Regions from separate parts of the Homo sapiens genome. Here all the other regions are reported to be linked to region 3. Evidence: microRNA targets listed by miRTarBase, many of them from high-throughput screens and not tested one by one. Region 3 holds a microRNA gene; each other region holds the end of a gene's coding sequence.
Evidence for each region. The annotated mature microRNA hsa-miR-1249-5p reads AGGAGGGAGGAGAUGGGCCAAGUU and lies in region 3 at 2,139-2,162, shown strand. An mRNA with a match to its seed (bases 2 to 7 or 8) in the 3' UTR can be bound and repressed. Matches are read on the target gene's strand: a 7mer-m8 pairs with bases 2 to 8, a 7mer-A1 pairs with bases 2 to 7 and ends in A, and an 8mer does both.

Region 1 (3,250 bases), not on the chromosome of region 3:
CGCGGCGGGGGTGGGCGGCGGCCCAGCGGGCTGCCCGGCGCCCGGCTCGACCCCGCTCAAGAAGCCCCGCCGGAACTTAGAGCAGCCGCCGAGTGGAGGAGAGGACGACGACGCGGAGGAGATGGAGACCGGGAACGTGGCTAACCTCATCAGCATCTTCGGTTCCAGTTTCTCGGGACTCCTACGGAAAAGCCCCGGGGGCGGCAGAGAGGAAGAGGAGGGAGAGGAGAGCGGTCCGGAAGCCGCCGAGCCCGGGCAGATCTGCTGCGATAAGCCGGTGCTGAGAGACATGAACCCCTGGAGCACAGCCATCGTGGCCTTCTGAGCCCTTGGCCCCCCTGCGGGGAGGAGGTGGAGCAGCGGGCGTCCCCGAAGTGAGGGCCAGGCCCTTCCCGGCTGCGAGGACGCCCAGAGACCGCGGGCGCTGAGCGCGTTGGGCAGACTGGTTGCCTCTGGGCATCGCAAACTGCCCCCGGGCGCATCTGGCTTATCTGGAGACCTGGGAGCTTGAGGCTCATTGGAAGAGGACGATCGTTAACTTTTGTGTTTGTGTATGTCTGTGTATGTAAGTTTGTCTTGTGGCATTAAGACTATTTTGCTCTTCTGGAATGCACCACTCCTTCCCCAGGGTTTAAGAGATTGGGGGCAGACAGGGACTTTCCTCTGCCGGCTGCGTGGAGAAGGAAGCGGCTAAAAGGTTTGGGCCGGGGAGTTCCCCATTCGTTCTCCGGGGAGGGAGGGACTTTACACCTACCCCTCACCGGAAAGCTAGACCCGCTTCAGGGCCAGGAGTGGCGTTTCCGCACAGGATTTCCTAAGACGAGAGGGATTTAGCCAAGAGCACAGACTTGGATTCCTTCTGTCCCTCCCCACCTTTCTCTCCCAATGAAGAAACGTTTATATCCTGTGATTACTCTAGGAAAGGGGCGTATTAACGGTCCTTTGCTTCCCCGCAGGGGAGAAAAAGCTTGACGAACTTCACAGAAGAGTTCAAGCTTGGAAATAATGGAGTTTATAGAGAAAAGATATATTTTTAAAAGCTCTAGGTCAGAAGTACTACACAGTGCTTTTAAAAAGTGTTTAATGAGAGTTTACAGACAGAAGCCCGAAGTGGAAAGACCTTATGGTTTTGTAGATATGGTGACTCCAGTCTTTGTTGTATAAAGGTTGGGGGAGCTGATAAGGTTTTTGTACAGTATTTTCTCCTTCGTTGTATTGATTTTTGTATAAAAATGTAACTTCTACGTGTCTAACACGTATTAAATATTTTGAAGCAACGTAACTGCCTGCTTGTCTGTAATAACCTGCCTGGGTTGGGAGGGAAGTGGGAGGAGGGAAACCAGGGCCTGAGCTAGAAAATTGAAGGTGTGGTTCTTAGTATCAGTCATTCGCAGACTGAGGACATTGTTTACTGACTCCACTAAGTATCAAGAGAGACACGTTTAATTTTTCCTCCTAGATCAGAGGACTGCTATTAGATACTAATATCGGCGACCTGTCAGGTTCTAGAAACCTGCCACTACAACTGCCTTTTCTAAGGTCAGTTTAGACCAATTTGTCACCCAATATGTGGGTGTCTAATACTAAGTAATTTAACCAACTTTTGAAGCCCCGCTTATCCACAAAAATGTTTTTCAGCAAAACTTTGTTTCCTGTTAAGCTATTAATACGGGTCATCTTTTAGCTTTGTAATTGAAAAAAAAAAAGTTTAGATAGTAGTTTACCTTAAAAGCCCATTCGAACTGACATAGGAAGATGAAAGAGACTGACTTGTCCAAATTGTCAGGTCCACCTCTGCATCACAGTGGATGTCAGGATGTAAATTTTCAGTTTTTCTCTTACATCTAGAAAGTAAATATATTGCTGAGAGGGAAATTGTTTGCATCAAACCAGATAAGGAAGGAGGGCTAGGCAAATTTAGTTCTCATTTAGCAAAACTTCCTGATTTGTTTTGTTACTTAAATGGTGACATCAGTGTTTGGTCATGGTAGACACTTAGGTGATGATAGCCAAAACATCCATCGATTTTACTAAAATCACTGCCATTAAGAGAGTTTTTTGTCTCTTCATGTTCAATGTTTGAAAGGTATTCAGTAATCTATTTCAGAAGCAAATCAATTAGGGAATGGTGTTTATTAAAATACGGTACAGTTGCCAGGACTTTAAAAGATGGTACTGGTTTCTAACAACTTACGAGTATATAGGGTATTTAAAAGATGGGAGAGATTGAAGAAAGACAAAGGTTTAAAGGTCATAGCCTTCGAGCATAAGAGGCATATGAATGGTGTCTTGGCCTTAACTCCCAATTATACGAACTTCTGTTTTAGCTGAATAGGCCAGTGCCTCGTGCCTTGATATTTCGGCAAATCTATTAGTGGTTCCTTAAGCATAGGGAACTTTGTACTTTATGCTCTGTCGCCATAATAATGTATTTATAGAATTAAACATTCTCAAATTAGGGTCTTGTTAAACTGACTTTTTCTTTCAGAAAGTAGCTACTTAAATTCTGTTACAGCTACAAAAGATCCATCAAGTGCTGACTGCTTAAACTGAAGAAGGTGTCCAGGGCCTTAATTCTGCAAACATTTCCTGTTGTTAGAAAGTATGATGCTTGAACAGCGATCTCAGTGTATTTTATGTTTTAAAGGGGGTAACGTTTGGTGTGTTTAAGAGAGCTGATGTGTTTTGGATGAGACTAAAGTTGATCCTTGGTTTTACATTAAGATGAACCTGGGTCCATGTGTCTGCTTAAAGAATGTAAATTGGCATACTTGATAGGAGGATAAAGCTTTGTAGGAATTAGAAAAGATCATTCTCTTTTTTGTTGCAGAAGCAGTATAGTATAGTAGTTAGAGCATGGGCCCTGGAGCCAGGCTGCTTGGTGTCTTCCTTTATTTATTTATTTATTTAATTATAAAAAGTAAATATAAAGTGAGCTATGTTGACCAGGTTCGTCTTGAACTCCTGGCCTCAAGCAATCCTCCTGCCTCAGCCTCCCAAAGTGCTGGGATTACAGGCATGAGCCACCACAACCTGGCCTGCTTGGGTTTTTCTATCTTGGCTCTGCCACCTAGCTGTGGGTCCTTGGACAAGTTACTTCATCTCTCTGTGCCTCAGGTTTTTCAAATGTAAAATTGGGATAATTGGATCTGTCTCATAGGGTTGTGAAAATTAATGAGTTAATGCTCTTAGAAGAGTACCTCATATGTAATAAGCACGCAACTGTTAATTATTGTTAATGTAGAAGTTA
Region 2 (3,250 bases), not on the chromosome of region 3:
GAGGAAGGAAAGAATCAGCTCCCAGACCTTTACCTGTCTTGTACTCAGTACCCAGTGCCCAGCTGAGAAGAGCCCCTGCTTTTGGGTAACCCAGTGGCTTTCTGCTTCGAGTTGCAGGAGGTTTGCTGCAGTTTGAGGCTGATAAAACAGCAAAGGAGGAATCTCTCTTCCCCGTGCCACCCAGCAAGGAGACCAGTGCTGAGTCCCAAGTGAGTGAGAACATCTTTCAGACCCAGCCACTTAACCCTATCCTCGAGGACGACTGCAGCTCGACTAGTGGCTTCCCCACACAGGAGTCCTTTACCATGGCCTCCTGCACCTCAGAGAGCCACTCCCACTGGGTCCACAGCCCCATCGAATGCACAGAGCTGGACCTGCAAAAGTTTTCCAGCTCTGCCTCCTATACTGGAGCTGAGACCTTGGGGGGAAACACAGTCGAAAGCACTGGAGACAGGCTGGAGCTCAATGTGCCCTTTGAAGTTCCCAGCCCTTAACTCTAATGAGGTGAGCTGGAAAGGTGGATCAGAAAAAAACAAAAAAAGCAAAACAGAAATTAAGGACTAACCTCAAGGAATTCTCTTTTGGAATAGTATTATTCACTAGGAGTGGAGGAACAGCAGCAAGCTAGGAACACTTTGGGTGGAGGGGCAACAGTGGTGATGCTAAACTTTTAAGCCAGACAGATATCACACTTCTGGGTCTACAATTGTCAGGGAACTGGCAAGGTTGTCATGATACCAGTCTCTCCATTCTGGTCTTTCGTAAGCTCTCTCAGGGCCCCACTATCTAATGGTCATATTCAGGTATCTCCCTTTATGTGTGCAAGCAGCATAGCACAGTAGAAAAAGATATACAAGCCTTGTCATCTGGAAACCCTACATTTCAAATCAACCTTCATTCCCTAATAACTATACAAACCTTGTGTGTATGTCACTTCATTTTACATTTTACAGAGGCAGGAACTGAGACACAGAGAGGGAAAGTTAGTTTCTCAAAGTCACAGGGCAAATTAGTGGGCTAGAACTGTGCAAGAACCCAGGTTTGGGGGCTACATTTTAGAGTTGGTTCAACTCCACCATTGCAACCATTTGATAGCCAATGTTACTTTCTCAAAGCTTATGTAGCATGAGGTAGGAGAGTAGGTAGATTCCCAGTTTTCAACTAACCAAATATCTTGCAGTGCCCACTTCCGTATTTCTTCAGTTAATACATTTTCAGTTCTCCCAATGACTTCCCTGCTCCCTGCATCCAACCTAAGAAAACGTGAACAAATGTATATTTGAAAGTCATAACTGATATCAAATTTGAAAGTTATAACTGATGTCAAATCAATCAACTTAGGTACCTTCAAGGTTATCTAGTCCAGTTCTTCTTCCAAGGTTTGGGTCCATTTTATAATATCCCCACTAAGAGTTTGTGTAGTCCTTGCTCACATACTTTAGGTGGCAGAGGGCTGACTACTTCTCAATGTATATTACAGTATACACAATTGTGACTGGTGGGTTTGAGCTCAATGTAAGAAAGAGCTTTCCCTGTAGTACCCGCCTATCCATCCTGGCTCTGTTCCTCGTGCCAGACAGACCTCATCAGTTTCCTCTGCTTTAAGATAGCCCTGCAGAGGCTTGAAGACAACACCACCTCTCTGGAGAATACCACTTTAGGTTCTTCTAAAGTATGTGGAGCTTAGAACTAAACCTATCTTCAGGATAAATGGTTTCAACAATGTAGAATAGGGTAGAATTGTCATATCCCTATCTAGGTAATGTCTTTCTGCTATTACATCCTCAACCATTGGCTTAACCTATGATATTTGGAGGGGTAGAGAAAGAAGGGTGCTAGTGAGATTTCCCCACATGTTTCTAACTTGGTTTGCTCTCTCCTTAGGTCTCTTGGGCCCCTGGCAGCCTTGCCCAGTTGTTCTCTCTGGACTCTGTTCCTATACCACAACAGCAGCAGGGGCCTGAAATGTGATGTCCACAAGAGCTAATACCCTACAGATGGGGCATATCCTATCCCATCCCACCAGAGGATTGATTCTCCATTTCACAAGGACTGATCTGGAGCATTTCTTGCTTCCCTTTTGTAGTCTGGGGAGCCAGATTCCACATTCATGGGACTACCAGACATGTTCCTAGCTCAACTTGATTATAGAGAAGAGGAGAGAGGACAGTGAATGGGGTAGGGTTTTCATGTCTGCATTTTTGGTCAGGTAAGCCTCTCAAAATTGTGTTGGCACATCTACCTAGCACTTTAGGGACAAAATCAAACCCTTCTCCCCTTTTAGCTCCTCCACACTGTCTCCCTCCTCAACACACACACACACACATACACACACATATACATAGACACACAAACACACACACACACATTAATATCTATCTTGGGGGAGGCCTCGTGCCATAATTCCCAAGTTCATGTCTCAGACTGCTGCATTGCAGCATGAGGCAGGGCAAACACTTTCCCTCTAGATCCCTGGGGCCTCACCCTGTATTTGAGGTTCTCACCACCCTCAGCAGGGAGAAGGGCTGAAGTTCGCCATTTTGGAACCTTACAGAACATTTCTGAGCCAAAGTAATCTTCCTTCTGGGGCCTGAGTTCCCCAAACTACCCCACAGCAGTCCCTCAAAGACAGCCCTCAATCCATGTAGGGACATCTGAGTATGCCTCTTTCTATTGAAATGTCAATTCAATCCCAGCTTTCTCACCACCGTTCCCCTTTGATTCTTTCTCAATTGTCTTTTTGCCTTTAGCTCCCACCTATACATCTCATGCTCAGAGAAAAACAAGTTCCTTAGAGGTTGTATTCTTTATTCTCCAAGAATCTGTCTGAAACTTGTACAGCTAGTTCCTGTCCCACAACTATTAAGTGGTTTATTAAGTACATTAGGCAGAATGTGCACTTCATCACCAGGTTCTAGCTCTGGCAAAGGAGTGCTGTCTACAGCAAGATTTTTGCTTTTAGAATTTTATTAACTACATCTTTTGGGTTCATCCATCTACAAACACTGATTAAGGGCCCCTGGGGCAACCAATTGATCAGATTACTAAAAGGACTTGGGAAAAAGCAAAAAGGTCCCATTGTACTGGACTGAGGATTAGAAGCAATTGAAATACAAGCCTGTACCAAGCAAGCAGCCTGGCCCCACACAGGTATTAGCAAATATGTGGTAACCAAGGTTTTAGGCCTTGGCCTTTAGGTTTCCTGTTTTTTTTTTGTTTTTGTTTTTGTTTTTGTTTTTCTGCAACAGGT
Region 3 (3,250 bases):
ATGTCGTTTGGCTTCTACAAGTACAGCAACATGGAGTTTGTGCGCATGAAGGGCCCCCAGGGCAAGGGCCACGCCGAGATGGCGGTCAGCCGAGTGTCTACAGGTGACACATCCCCCTGTGGGACTGAAGAGGACTCCAGCCCAGCTTCGCCCATGCACGAGCGGGTAAGGGCTGCACAGCTGGGGGCGGGGGCTCCCATCCGTCAAGTTCACTTTCCACCGTCTCCCCCGTGCTCACGGCCCCCTGGGGACATAGGTGTTGTCATCCCCAACCACCAGTGCGCAGGCCGAGGTGCCGAGCGTGCGGAGGCCCGGACCACCCAGCCCTTCTCTTTGCCTAGCGGTTTGTAGGAGGCACTGCCGCAGGGGAGGCGTTCCTGCCTTGCAGACCTGGAGGGCTGTGCCTGGCCAAGGTCACACCGCAGGCTGGTGCTGGGCCAGAGCTCTTTCTGCCTCCCTGAGATGCCACAAAGCCAGGCTGAGTCCACAGAGCCAGTGGGCAGAAGAGACTGGCTGGGGACCCAGGCCCGGCCCTGGCGCCTGCCTGGGTGGACCTGCTGGGTGAGCGTGGGCACGTGGCCGGCCTTCCCCGGTGAGTCAGATGGGGATGATGGTGACTGAGGGTCAGCCAGCGCATGCAGAGGCCTAGGCCACCCAGCTCTTTGCCCCGCGGTTTGTAGGAGGTTCTGCTGCAGGAGAGGCGTTCCTGCCTCGCACAGCCGGAAACCAGACTTGCCAGCTTGCCCCAGGTCACAAGGTCTCTTGGGATAGCACTGGGCTTGGGGCCCTGCTCTGCCTAGGCCACTCTCCTTCCCCAGGGCGGGAGGCTGAGGTCAGCAGCAGCTTTGTTCCCAGAAGCCTTTGGTGGGGCACAGGCAGGAGAAGGTCTCCAGCCCACTGGCTGCTTTGCTCTACCTGGTTCTTCCAGAGGGACTGCCCAGAGCTGTAGTTCTTGGAAGAGTACAGGTGTGCTGGGCAGGGGGGTGCCCTTGGCACAGGTCCAGGGGCAGTCTTGCCCAGCCATTGTCCAGGAGAGACGCCACCCACAGCCAGAATCCTGCTCTGCTGCTCTCATAACCTTGGGTGTGTCTCTTTTCCTCTCCAAGCCTCAGTTTTCTCATCTAGAAACAGGGCACGAGGATACCTGCTCCTTCAGTATTTGGGAGGCTTTGAGGAATCCGGGGCTTGGCCCTCAGGAGGATTCCCAGGTGGCAGCTGCAGTAGTTGCTGTTGACCTACTTGGAAAGCAGAGGCGTGGGAATGTAAACGATGCATTACCGCAGGCATGCCTGAGATGAGGGAGTGTGCGTTTGTTATACTTTTAGTTCGAGAAAGATCTGAATCATGCATATCTCCGGGTGGTCAGATGTTGGTTTTCTTTCTCTTCTGTATATCTTTTTTTGGGGGGGAGGTATCTTCTGCAATGAATGTGTTTTGCAAGCCAAAGACAGCAAGTGCTATTTTTTGCAAAGATGGGTGAGAATTCCAGGCAGGGGCCTCTCTTGTCTTTGGAATGAGGTGGTTTATATTTCTGAGTTTGTTTCCGAGATAAAGGGCCTGGTTCTTCTCCCTGGTCCTAAATTATGCCCTGGGACTCTGACAAAATGTGTGTGTGAAAGTCCTTACGAAGATGTGGCCCGAGCTCTGGGCTGGACAAACCCGGGTGCCACCTCCAGCCACAGCCTGAGGGCTGAGTGACTACAGGTCACTAGACCTGCCTGAGCCTTGGTTTTCCCATCTGTCCAGCGGGAGTGGCTGTGAGGGGTGTGAAAGTCCCTGGTGCCTTAGCAGCTGGGCAGCCCTGGGATTCAGGAGGAGGGATGTGCTAGGGTCACACAGGGTCAGCAGCAGGGCTGGCCCCTGGGGACTGCCGCCTGTGCGCCTGCTATTACCTGTCTCCTTCTCTGGCGGGGTCGTCTGGAGCCAGTGCGTGACACATGCTGACTCTGTGTATTGTGGTTGCTGCTGTTTGTTTCTTTTATCTTTTAAAAACCTTCCCCGGCTTGTGGGAACACCGTCTGGAGCCCAGCAGCTGCCAGGACTTTGGTGGATGTCGGAGCCGTGACGAGGAGGCTGACGGGGCTCCCGAAGTCTCAGTCCCAGCTCATCCTGCTCCTCAGATTATTGTTGGCATGGGGAGGAGGGAGGAGATGGGCCAAGTTCCCTCTGGCTGGAACGCCCTTCCCCCCCTTCTTCACCTGGCGAACTCCTACTCGTCCTTCAAGACCCAGCTCCAGCGGCATCTCCTCCAGGAAGCCTTCCCTGATTTCCCAGGCTGTGGATCCCTTTTGCCTCTGTGCTTCATGTATCCTGTGCTTCTCTTTCTCTGTCTCCACAGCCAGCATGCTGTCTATGGTTGTCACTCTCTGAGTCTGTCACCCCAGCAGACTGTGAGCTCCTTGAGGGCAGGGACCTGCAATGTGCCTGTCTGTCCTTAGTGCTGTGCCTGCCTGGCCCTGAGTGGGTGTGAATGTTTGGTGAACAGAACCAAACGTGATTAGAAGTGGGGAGAAGACAGAGGCATAGAGCTACTTAGCACAGTATTTCCTGTGAAGGGTGCTGGGAATGAGAGGGATGGGGCCACGTCAGCCCTGAGAAGTAGGATGAGGAGCGTGGCCCTGGGGGACAGAAGACAGGGCTGCTGCCGTCCTGCTTGGTGACCACAGGCAAGCCAGGGTCTCGGTCCCTGCCTTAGTTTCCCCATGTGTCAGATGGGCTGACGCTAGCCCCTGTCTCACGGAGCTGGAGGCTCAGAGGGTCTGTGTGTGGGGCCAGTGCTCACTCAGCGTCAGCAGCTGTTGTTACTTTGTGCTTGAACACCCCCTACCCACTGTTTGAGGCCCAGAGGAGGGGGGTCTTTCTGCCATTTGCGGCAGCAGCCTGGCCCCTCCTCGGGTAGCACTGGTGGCCAGGTGTCCTGCTGGCCCCTGGGCTGGAACGCATCTTCCAGTCTCTAGGCCCCACCTAGCACGGGCCGGCTGGGCCTGGGTCCTCCTGGGCCAGCGGCCTCTTCCCTGGGAGCTGTGTCAGGTTGTTTGAGGGTGGGATAGGAGGGGCGTTGGGACCCCCGGGGAGGGGGCTGTTCTGCTACTCTGGTGACTTTGGCTGCTTGTTCCCAGGTGACCTCCTTCAGCACACCCCCCACCCCAGAACGGAACAACCGGCCTGCCTTCTTCTCCCCATCCCTCAAGAGGAAGGTGCCCCGGAACCGGATCGCTGAGATGAAGAAGTCGCACTCGGCCAACGACAG

Region 1: the mRNA of IER5 is a reported target of hsa-miR-1249-5p. Seed matches in the 3' UTR shown: 7mer-m8 at 863-869.
Region 2: the mRNA of EDA2R is a reported target of hsa-miR-1249-5p. Seed matches in the 3' UTR shown: 7mer-m8 at 2,300-2,306.

The regions. Positions count from the first base shown.
Region 1 is chr1:181,089,562-181,092,811 of GRCh38, forward strand. IER5 (immediate early response 5) reads left to right here. Exons shown (of 1, transcript NM_016545.5): 1 at 1-3,250. The coding sequence ends at 325. Among named protein-coding and RNA genes, the nearest start is that of IER5, 2.5 kb to the left of the region's middle. RefSeq lists silencers at 1-77, 652-946 and an enhancer at 468-637.
Region 2 is chrX:66,596,728-66,599,977 of GRCh38, reverse strand. It overlaps EDA2R (ectodysplasin A2 receptor), which reads left to right. Exons shown (of 7, transcript NM_021783.5): 6 at 118-504; 7 at 1,885-3,250. The coding sequence ends at 494. Among named protein-coding and RNA genes, the nearest start is that of EDA2R, 41 kb to the left of the region's middle.
Region 3 is chr22:45,199,905-45,203,154 of GRCh38, reverse strand. It overlaps MIR1249 (microRNA 1249), which reads left to right and starts at 2,136; the gene lies at 2,136-2,201. It overlaps KIAA0930, which reads left to right. Exons shown (of 10, transcript NM_001009880.2): 7 at 1-165; 8 at 3,120-3,250. RefSeq lists a cis regulatory region at 756 and an enhancer at 684-828.